Linked DNA regions of Homo sapiens. The protein of the gene in region 3 interacts with the protein of the main gene of each other region in a pairwise test. Each region holds a gene or a part of one and is shown on either strand. Other genes may lie near its edges. The genes, in order: STRIT1, PLP1 and SPNS3.

What was found.
Region 1: the proteins of SPNS3 (region 3) and STRIT1 interact in binary tests that used the Homo sapiens proteins (3 or more experiments, as listed by UniProt).
Region 2: the proteins of SPNS3 (region 3) and PLP1 interact in binary tests that used the Homo sapiens proteins (3 or more experiments, as listed by UniProt).

The regions. Positions count from the first base shown.
Region 1 is NC_000003.12:155,291,477-155,295,228, forward strand, and holds the start of STRIT1 (sarcoplasmic/endoplasmic reticulum calcium ATPase regulator DWORF), read right to left. Parts: upstream 2,208-3,752; 5' UTR 2,157-2,207; coding exon 2,144-2,156; intron 1-2,143.
Region 2 is NC_000023.11:103,783,188-103,786,839, reverse strand, and holds part of PLP1 (myelin proteolipid protein), read right to left. Parts: intron 1,259-3,652; coding exon 1,072-1,258; intron 376-1,071; coding exon 114-375; intron 1-113.
Region 3 is NC_000017.11:4,432,295-4,436,046, reverse strand, and holds the start of SPNS3 (protein spinster homolog 3), read right to left. Parts: upstream 2,108-3,752; 5' UTR 2,080-2,107; coding exon 1,881-2,079; intron 1-1,880. UniProt on the Homo sapiens protein: Sphingolipid transporter.

The DNA.
Region 1 (3,752 bases), on a different chromosome or scaffold from region 3:
ACAACTCTGAGGCAATTCCCACTAAAGTAAATAATTATAACACAAGGAAAGGTATTGAGAACTGTCCTTGGCCTCAATAGCTGAATGTAATTTTAAATATCACAGGGAAAAGGAAAGTATCATACATTATGTAACCATTCTTGACTACAGAAAAGAATTTCTATTGTTTAAAAATTGTTCAGTATAACAACCAGCACTGAACCTGAATCAATGGGCAGTAATAATCCAACACACACATAAATGGCGTTTGTTATATATGATTCCTTCTGTGCCTCCTATTTGTACTCTTACCTGTAAAAAGCAATTTATACAAGTATCTTTTTTAAAGTATGCACTGCATGTAACTCTTGTTCTTTCAAGCAAACATACACAGGCATACACACAGAAATCCACACCTACATCACACAAAAAGATTTAGAAAGAGCGCAGAAAAACATTCTATGGAATTAATGTCCCTGTGTTAAGGACTCAGATATATTCTTAACTGCAAAGCATAATTAGATCTTATGCCATTAGTTAAAAGAGAGAATGCATATTCTTAGCAATTATACTCCTATTACAATTTCCATCACTTTAAAATGTGAAATTTTTAAAAATGCTATTAAAATAAAATCATCAGGAGATGAGACACATTTAAAATTAGAAGACACTTTTATAAAAGCAAACTTTCTGAAGTTGAAATAAATTTTAATACTTTAAATCAATTTTTCCAAGAATGCTAGAGTCTCTCTTAACTGACAAAATTCAACATGCTTTTCTTGTTTCTCCATCTCACTGTGACCTTGTATAAGGCATTAAGCACTAAATGGAAAACTCTTCTCTTTACTTGACATGTGGTATTGCTTAAGGATAAAGCAAACAACATGAGTTGCCCTTTACTCTCATTTGGACGAAAGCCTTTTTATGAATTAAGGTACCATTACAATGGAAGTACATAGCAGTAATTTTTTTGAACTGTCTAGGTATGTGGCTTTATATTTTTCCCAATTTCAAAGAATTTGAAAATTAATATTAACCCTTTAATTGTGCATTTATATTTTATACATGCATATTTTAATAAAATTTACATATCACAAAGCCCTAAAAGTATCTCATTATTTACTTTCCTTGTAAAATAGTACCAGTAGCACTAACTGTGCATTTTAACACCCAAAGTATACATTCCATTGTTTTTTTAACACTAATGTTTTCAACTTTACTAATACCTGTGGAATTGTTTGGAAGTAGAAATACGTAAGAGCACAACATACTTTGCATATGTCACTTACATTACTAGCACAAATAAGAACAAAACATCTCTTAAACATGAAGTGTAATTCTAAAATGCTTCTCTCTTGTCCAGTTCTGAGCATATCAAAGTAGTTACAGCTGGAAGTGTTCTTGAGGACACTGTGCTCTGGAAAAGACTGTCCAGGTTAAACACCTGGTGCCACCACTCTTTAGCGATCATGAACAAGTTACTAAACTGCTGTGTCTCCATTTTCTTATCTATAAAATGGGGATGATGATGATATGCATATTTCACAAGGTCATTGTCAAGATTCAAAGCAAAAATTCCTGTTTAATATTTAAAAACCATTTCTTAGATACAGTATATATTCAACTTTTTGACAAATTGGAATCAATTATTTTATATAACTATAAAATATAAATACAAAAAAATGTTTAAAAACCAGAAAAAAGTTAGATGTGGAACAAAAATTTTAGGTGTGGAATAGATGCCTGAGCCCAATATTCTCATTTTACTGTCAGAAAACAGACTCAGAGAGGTATAGGGACTTCTGCAAACTCACATAGCCATTTACTAGCAGGTCTGACACAGAACTTAACTGTCTTCAATTCTGGCTCAGAATTGAAATCAGGAGAACTGATTTCTAACTCACCTTTCAAAATAAGTATTAACAAAATTAAGCTCTTTTCCTTTGTTGATCATTTTAAAATTATTCATAACCTATAGACCTGATCCATAGATTACATAATTAATGCATTTTTGCAGCCACACTAACATATATGGTTAATGGTCATTTAGCATAGATATCACATTTTTTAGAGTGACTGGGAAACACCAAGAAACATAAATGAACCAAAGTCAAGAAGCCTTTTTTTTTTTTTTGCCAAGAGAATCCTATGCCTTAAATCTTACCTTTTTCAGCCATTATTCCTGTTGGTGGGTGGCTAGGTCAGGCCACGCTTACCTCTTTCTTTTGTTATCCAGCGTCTCTTTGAACTTTAAATAGAGAGAAATCTGAAGATTGCGGCAGCTGCCCGTCTCCTGGCTGCCAATTGTCTGCAGAGTGATGTAAGTCATGGGAAAGCAGAACTCCTCTGGCTCTTTATTCTATTATTATGGAGGAAACGAGGGGCTACATGACCTAAACAATTAGGTAAGCTGAATTATCCTAATGCAGATATTCGCAGGTTTTTAATTTGCACCATGCCTTTAGGTAACATGAAGAAAATGTTCTATAAAGAAGGTGTACAGAGGAAAAACAACATTCCACCTATACAAGTGCTATCAAGGAGAAGGGTGATATATTAGAAAGAAAGGATTTTGATGTTGGAGAGACTTGGGTTCAAATTCCAGCTCTTTCTGTAATGAAAGCCAAGTTGCTTAACCTGGGAATCAGCTTCTTTAGTTTTAAAATGAGGATAATAATACCTACTCATGGGAGTCGCATAAAGATGAAATGAAAGTCTGTATGAAATGTAGACAGTTCTTTATTACTTTACAGGTGGAAAACATAAAATGAAATGGTGCCCCTTTCTTTGAACTATTCTAAAACAAAAAGTGTTAATATAAATGTACTAGAAACTAAAACAATACAGACGTCGCCTAGAATTTTTAGGAAGCAGTCATAAGCTTGTTGTTTTTATTAGCAATGTATAAAAATAGGACATTTCATTTTTCAAAGTCCAAACTGGTTTATGTAACTGACCTAGACTATTCTCTATATTCTCATTGGAATAACTTTAAATTGGGGATCTGGCTGGAAAAGTTTTGCAGAGTGACCCTGTGAGCATCTTCCCAAAAAAAATTTGACATAAGATTAAGACCTGTAAAGGCAGGTCTGGCCTGATCAAATTTATCTCCACAGAGTTCCAAGAGTGATATTGCCTTGCAAATGACCATGTTCCATCACTGCTCAAAAATCCACCAATAGTTCTTCATCTCCTAGACAATAAAAATCCCAACTCTTTGTTTAGACACCTAAAAACCCTTATTTCTCTACTCTTCCATTTGCAGTGATAACTTCAGTGACACTGAACTCCTTGCTATTATATGAATTCAGAATCCTCCCACTCTCACAGGCAAGAAGAACATTTGACTTTCTACCTCAAATAATGTACCTATAGATTAGAGTGTGCAGCCAAGAATCTGGCACATTTATATCATTTATGTCAAGTTGTCATCTCTCTCCTCAGTCTCTCTCTCAATATATTATTTAATATTGAAAAAATGTCTGGCTATGTCAGGTAAGCAGAAAAACTACGTATTGTTTATGCAACAAAATCCCTTGCTTACCTGGCAAAGTTGGGTATTTTTTTCAATATTAAATAATAATACGTTAAACAAAGGTTAACTGAGGCCAAAAGAGAGAGAAGAAATAAAAATGTTATTGATCTCATTTAAATATAAAAAATGTTAATTCAGTAAGTTCAAATGAACACTAATTATCTTAAGGAAAAAAATGATATTTAAAACAAACAGTGTGGTACCCACAAAGAGCACAAACATACATAATAAAATAAAA
Region 2 (3,652 bases), on a different chromosome or scaffold from region 3:
TCAAATGCCAGGCCCCTAGAGAGGACCCAGCCTTGGGTGGGGACGAGGCCACAGACTCGCGCCCAATTTTCCCCCACCCCTTGTTATTGCCACAAAATCCTGAGGATGATCACCTTGTCGGGATGTCCTAGCCATTTTCCCAAACAATGACACACCCGCTCCAAAGAATGAGCTTGATGTTGGCCTCTGGAACCCCTCCCCTTCTGGCCCCCTGTTACCGTTGCGCTCAGGCCCTTGCCGCAGATGGTGGTCTTGTAGTCGCCAAAGATCTGCCTGACTGCGCCGGTGGTGTAGAAGCCCTCAGCCAGCAGGAGGGCCCCATAAAGGAAGAAGAAAGAGGCAGTTCCATAGATGACATACTGGAAGGCATGGATCCTGCATTAACAGGTAGACAAACGAGACCAGGGAATCTTATTAATTGAAGACCTGGCTTCTTTCCCGACATAAGTGAGGTATACACCAGAGCGAGCACCTTAACAAGGCTAGGGATTTTCTAGAGGAATCACCAGGTTCCTCCTGCATGCTTTCACCTTATCTTTGTTGAAATAAGTGAAGACAGGGTGTATGTGACCAGAAACATATGCCCCTCCCGCCACACCTTGCTTACCCTGGGACCTGGAGAACCAGGGACCTACTCTCCCTGCCCCACCCTTCAGACATGCTAACTCACAGGAGTAGGGAGCTAGACAAGAAGAAAGGTGGGTGAAGGAACAGGAGCCTAACTTGTTCTAGGAACAGGAGAGGCTTAGTGCCTCCCTTGGCTTCTCCATACCTACTACGCTGGAGGCTCCAACTTGGGCAATATGAACCACACCTAGCAGAAGTCAGAACACGTGTAAGAAAACAAGGGGGCGGGGGTGGGAGGGGCTGACAGGCAGGCAGGCAGACCCCTCCTTTCTGAATGGGCTTCGAATGTGGAGCAGGAGAGATCTGCACAGAGGGAAGACTCGGGAATCCGGTCTGGCTCCACCCCAGTCCCCTGCTAGTTACTAAGGTACTGAAGAGTTCTCTATCTCCAGGATGGAGAGAGGGAAAAAAAAGATGGGTCTGTGTGGGAGGGCAGGTACTTACACATTGATGAGATACTCATAGTCTTGGTAGTTTTTGGAGAAATAGGTCTCAATTAGCTTTTCTGTGCCAGTGAGGGCTTCATGTCCACAGCCACAGAACAGTGCCACCCCAAAGAAACACAATCCAGTGGCCACCAGGGAAGCAAAGGGGGCCCCTACCAGACATCTTGCACAGCACTCTAACAAGCCTGGGGAAGAAGAAGGGGAAACAGTCAGGCACATCCAGTAGGTAGCTCATGCCACTCAAACCCCTCTGCCAGGCCCTGTGCTCACAGGCTCGGAGATAGTGGGCACTCCGAAGTCAAAAAGCAGGAGCGGCTAGAGGTTTTGGCTTTCAGCATGTGAGATTGACCCAGAATCCTTACTTTGTTTCATTCTTGAAAATAAATCTTTGGCCGGGCACGGTGGCTCATGCCTGTAATCCCAGCACTTTGGGAGGCTGAGGCAGGTGGATCACATGAGGTCAGGAGTTCAAGACCAGCCTGGCCAACATGGCAAAACCCCGTCTCTACTAAAAATACAAAAATTAGCCGGGCATGGGCGTATGCCTGTAATCCCAGCTACTCAGGAGGCTGAGACAGGAGAATCTGTTAAACCCAGGAGGAGGCGGAGGTTGCCGTGAGCCAAGATTGCGCCATTGTACTCCAGCCTGGGCAGTAAGAGCGAGACTCTGTCTCAAGAAAAAAAAAAAGAAAGAAAGAAAATAAATCCTTACCTTTTATTGCCAGAATTTAAAAAATATTTAATAAATAATAATAATTCAGCAATTCAAATAGCAAGCCAGAGAGATTATGAAATCAGTCCCTTCTTTCTTATTGTTCTAGTCTGTTTGTTTGCTTGCTTATTTTAGTCATTCATCAACTATTTATGGAATACTCACTATATGCCCAGCATTATGCTGGGTGTTATACGGGATATGAAGAGAGAAAAGACACAGACTCTGCCATATGGGAGTCTTTAATTTCCTGAGGAAGAATTAGCTAAGTAGACCTAATATTTTCAACTAACAATTCAGGCAGCCAAGTAAGTGGTAACAGAGGGTAAATGCACTTGGAGTTCCAGGAAGGGATGAGTGCAGGCCAGAGATGCTGGTATTGTCAGACAGGATTTTAGCATGAAGAGCATTCCAGGTGGAGGAAACTTTGGAAATTGGATGCTCCTGGACATTTTTGAGCATCGTGTGTATTTGTTGCAAAGAATGCTTGATTCTTCTTAGTTTACATATGGGAGGAGCAGTCCAAACAGGATGGAGCTAGCACAGGACAAGAAATGAAAATTGGAAAATAGGAGGTTTGATATTACTCCCAATAATAAAAATGCAGGCTTAATGATTTTGGACACTTTGTATGGCAGTTTTGTCCTCCTATAATGCAGCTTGGCTAATGTCCCCACCCTCAGTTATACGCTGAGATTCTGTCAAAACAGCTACAAACAGACTTTATACAAAGTCAGCAAAGCATGAAACATCTTTCTGGCACTAGAGGAACACACCAGGGCCTGGGAACACATGTGTCTTAAAGTGCTAAGAGTCCCTGAGATCCCCAGACCTGGTATCCCAGGCCCTATGCCAGTGTTGCTGAGAAACAGGAGAGGCACACAAGAAGTCACAGGCTCTGAAAGCAGCTGTGTTCCAAGTACTAGTCCCATGCTCTAAGATGTCATATGGAGTGAACCTTAGCAAATGCCAAGTAGATGACTGACTAGATGAGGAAAAGAATGGCTTCCTCTGGCCTCTCGGCCAGATCCCTAAAATGTAGAAGAAATGAGAATGTTAAGCTCTTCAGAAAAAATGTCTTAATTCATATGTATGTATATATATAAATATATGTATATATACCCACTGATTTTATATATCTATAAACACAGTATACACATGCACACACACAAATACTCAGCAAATGTACTGGGAAGCTGCTATTTTTGAATAAGCAGGTTGTGACAGCTTGTACAATAAAAATAAATTGTATTAATTACTTAGGCTTGGATTTTTGTATTCAAGCATTTCTCCAAGCCACACTCACTTTTCTATAGGGTACCAGGGAAAGGGGACTCCTTTTCCTGATTCTGTTAACATTAGTTACAGTTTGTTTTTAGCCCAGAGAGCATGAATACCTAGTGATTTACATGGCTGAATTGCATCAGTGTGAACAGATTTGGAAAGATCAAATTATCTCTGTCATGGGAAAATCGAGGTAGAGGCATTTGCCTCTGTTCTCAGAGACACAAAAGGAGTGAGTCCTATTACCCACCATCCCCTGAAATGACAGCCCTTTCTTGGCCTTCAAAGAGTGTCACACCAAAGATGAGCCTCAGAAGCCCAAGCCAAACAAAGTAAGCAGCTAACATTTGGAGCAGAACTTCCTTTTCCAAGAACTAAAGCATTGCTGCCAGGAAACTTGGCCTCTATAAGAAGCAATCTGTAGCTGTGCTGCTGTGAGTGGAGGCTGAGTTTACTCAGCATGAACTTTGCAAACGTGCTTGGGAAGAGTGTCTTTTCAGAGCTGGCCCATGGGTGTGTCTGTGTGTGTGCACACGCACATGCATGCATGTGTACAAATGTGCACATACACACATGTATACCA
Region 3 (3,752 bases):
CAGCAGGGGGTCCTGCCCACAGTTAGTGCTCAGCCGGTCTTGAATGAATGAATGACAAGAAGAGAAGAGCAAGTGGAGCCTCAATCAGCTGTTGTTATTGTTGTTGTCTTTGTTTGAGACGGAGTCTCGCTCTGTCGCCCAGGCTGGAGTGCAGTGGCACGATCTCAGCTCACCGCAACCTCCGCCTCCCGGGTTCAAGCGACTGTCCTGCCTCAGCCTCCCGAGTAGCTGGGATTACAGGCGTGAGCCACCACGCCTGGCCCCTGATCAGTCTTGAATGAATGAATGAGTGAGTGAGTTAGTGAATGAGTGACAGAAGACAGAGCAGGTTGAGCCCTGAAGCCTGCAAGAAGGAAGGCAGGACGTGTGAGGTTTGCGAGCAGCCTGTTGTCCTAGAAACACAGCCAGCAGGAGCTATTCTTGTCTGGCCCAGGCTACCCTGTCCTCCACCTAGAACCTGGGGGCCTCTGCCTGGAAGTCCTGCCTGCTGTCCTCACCCACCCACCCCTCATTATGTCTCTGGCCCCACCCCCACTGTGCCCTCCCTTAATTTTTAAAAAATATTTATTTATTTATTTATTTTTTATTTTTTATTTTTTTTTTTTTGAGACAGAGCCTTGCTCTGTCGCCCAGACTGGAGTGCAATGGTGGGATCTTGGCTCAATGGTGGGATCTCGGCTCACTGCAACATCCACCTCCCAGGTTCAAGCAATTCTCTGCCTCAGCCTCCCCAGTAGCTGAGATTACAGGTGCCCGCTACCATGCTCGGCTAATTTTTGTAGTTTTAGTAGAGACGGGGTTTCACCATGTTGCCCAGGCTGGTCACAAAGTCCTCACTTCAAGTGATCCGCCCACCTTGGCCTCCCACAGTGCTGGGATTACAGGCCTGAGCCACCGCACCCAGCCCTAAAATATTTTTAATTTTTTAAATAGAGACAGAGTTTCGGCTGGGCGCAGGGGCTCATGCCTATAATCCCAACACTTTGGGAGGCCGAGGCAGGCGGATCACCTGAGGTCTGGAGTTCGAGACAGCCTGGCATACACGGCAAAACCCCGTCTCTACTAAAAATACAAAAACTAGCCTGGCATGGTGGTATGCGCCTGTAGTCCCAGCTACTCGGGAGGCTGAGATAGGAATCGCTTGAACCTGGGAGGCAGAAGTTGCAGTGAGCCGAGATCGCGCCACTGCACTCCAGCCTGGGCAACAGATTGAGACTCTGTCTCAAGAAAAAAAAAAAAGGCCGGGCACGGTGGCTCATGCCTGTAATCCCAGCACTTTGGGAGGCCGAGGCGGGTGGATCACCTGAGGTCAGGAGTTCGAGACCAGCCTGACTAGCATGGTAAAACCCCGTCCCTACTCCTCCTCTACTCAAAATACAAAAATTAGCCGGATGTGGTGGTGCACGCCTGTAATCCCAGCTACTCGGGAGGCTGAGGCAGGAGAATCACTTGAACCTGGGAGACAGAGGTTGCAGTGAGCTGAGATTGCGCCACTACACTCCAGCCTGGGCGACAGAGCGAGACTCTGTCTCAAAAAAAAAAATAAATAAATAGAGACAGAGTCTCACTATGTTGTCCAGGTTGGTCTCAAACTCCTGGGCTCAAGCAATCTTCCTGCCTCAGCCTCCCAAAGTGCTGGAATTACAAGCGGGAGCCACCATGCCCAGCCTGTGTCCCTTCTTAGTTGAGGCTGGATTGGGAACATCAGTTGGTCCTCCCCGATTCGAGCACAGCTGAAAACCACCTCTAGAGGTGAGAACACCAGAGATGGGCCCAGGAGCAGAAAGATGGGTGATGGCTGGAAGGCCACCATGGATCTGCAGCCCCTGGCTGGTGGGCACAGCAGCAGGTACTGCCCAGGGTAGCCATCCCCTCCTCACCTGCAATGATGAACCAGTTCATGTAATTCAGGAGGTTGATGTAGCAGAGGACGGCGGCAGCCACGTAGGCCCTCCACGGGGGCAGGCTCCAGGAGGTGGGCGTGATGGGAGGGGGACACTGCCTGCCTGGCCCTGGGGACTGGCCCTGCAGACCTCCTGGCCCAGGCTCAGGGCACTCCGCTGACATCCCCCCAGCCATGCCAGCCTGCAGCTCTTGGCCTGAGACTGGCGCCAGGATGAAGCAACATTAGCTCAGCACGAAGTCACTTCCTGTGGGGTCCCAGGCTCCAAACCTCAAAGCACCTGCCCTAACTGTTGGGCGTCTTATCGCAGGTTCCTCCTGACCCCACGGCAGCTTCACCAGTGCGATTTCCCCATCGTCAGCCTCTGAGACCTGCTACGGAGGACAAGGGCTCCTGGCACCCCCACCCTGGGGACTGGACAACTCTGTGGTCCCCTTGATCTAGCCTGCAGCTTCAGTGGCTGCAGTGAGGAAGGGAAGCTTCCAGGGCAGGAAATGAGATGAGCCTCCCAGAGTGCTGCTTGCTGTGAGATGGTCTAGCTGCCCGTACGGGACTGTGAACCAATGCCTTGAAGCCGGGGCAAATGAGGAAGGCTGGGCATTGGCCAGGACAGCAGCATTGCACTCGACTGCCAGGCAGGATGAGCACCTACCCAGGATCTAAGGTCCTTCCCGGAAAAACAAAGGTAGCAGAGGGGGCTGCCTACAAGAAGACAGCCTGTGTGCAAAACTCATCAGTGGGGGCTAAATCTGGGGGGAAGACTTCAGTGAGGGGGGAGGGTGTCAGCACGGTCACGAAGCATCTCTTGATAGATTGCTTATTAGTAACAAAAGGAAAAAGAGTAACTATACAGTAGAGGAATCAGACATCTTGACCAAGGGGTTAAAATAAATCACCTGTGAGAGGCAGGAGGGTGTCGTGTGCCTCCAGATGTGAAGGTCTTCGCAGGTCACAGCATCATCTATGTGGCATTCCAGCCAGGAAGGCACAACCGGAATCTCATCATGAGAAGACATCAGCCAGACGCGGTGGCTCGCACCTGTAATCCTAACACTGGGAGGCCAAGACAGGAGGATCATCCAAGCCCAGAAGTTTGTGACCAGCCTGGGCAACATGGTGAAACCCCATTGCTACAAAAATACCAAAAAAATAAAAAATTTTAAAAAAAAATAGCCGGGTGTAGTGGTGTGCGTCCACAGTCCCAGCTACTTGGGAGGCTGAGGTAGGAAGGATCGCCTTAGCCTGGGAAGTCGAGGCTGCAGTGAGCCATGTTCGTGCCACTGCACTCCAGGCTGGGTGACAAAGCAAGACCCCAACTCAAAAAAAAAAATTTTTTTTTTAATTTTTAAAATGAAAAAACATCAGACAAGCCCAAATTGAGAAACACTATTTCTTTAAAGGGACTGTATATTGAAAAATGTCAGAGTCATGAAAGACTAAGAAAGACTGAGGGAGCTAGGCGTGGTGGCTCACGCTTGTTATCCCAGCACTTTGGGAGGCCGAGGCAGGTGGATCACCTGAGGTCGGGAGTTCAAGATCAGCCTGACCAATGTGGAGAAACCCCGTCTCTACTAAAAATACAAAACTAACTAGGCATGGTGGCAGGTGCCTGTAATCTCAGCTACTCGGGAGGCTGAGGCAGGAGAATTGCTTGAACCCGGGAGGCACAGGTTGTGGTGAGCCAAGATCACGCCATTACACTCCAGCCTGGGCAACAAGAGCAAAACTCTGTCTCGAAAAAAAAAAAATATTCTGAGGGACTGTTTTGGATTAAAAGCAACAAAGAGACAAGATAGGCCAGGCGCGGTGGCTCATGCCTGTAATCCCAGCACTTTGGGAGGCCCAGGCG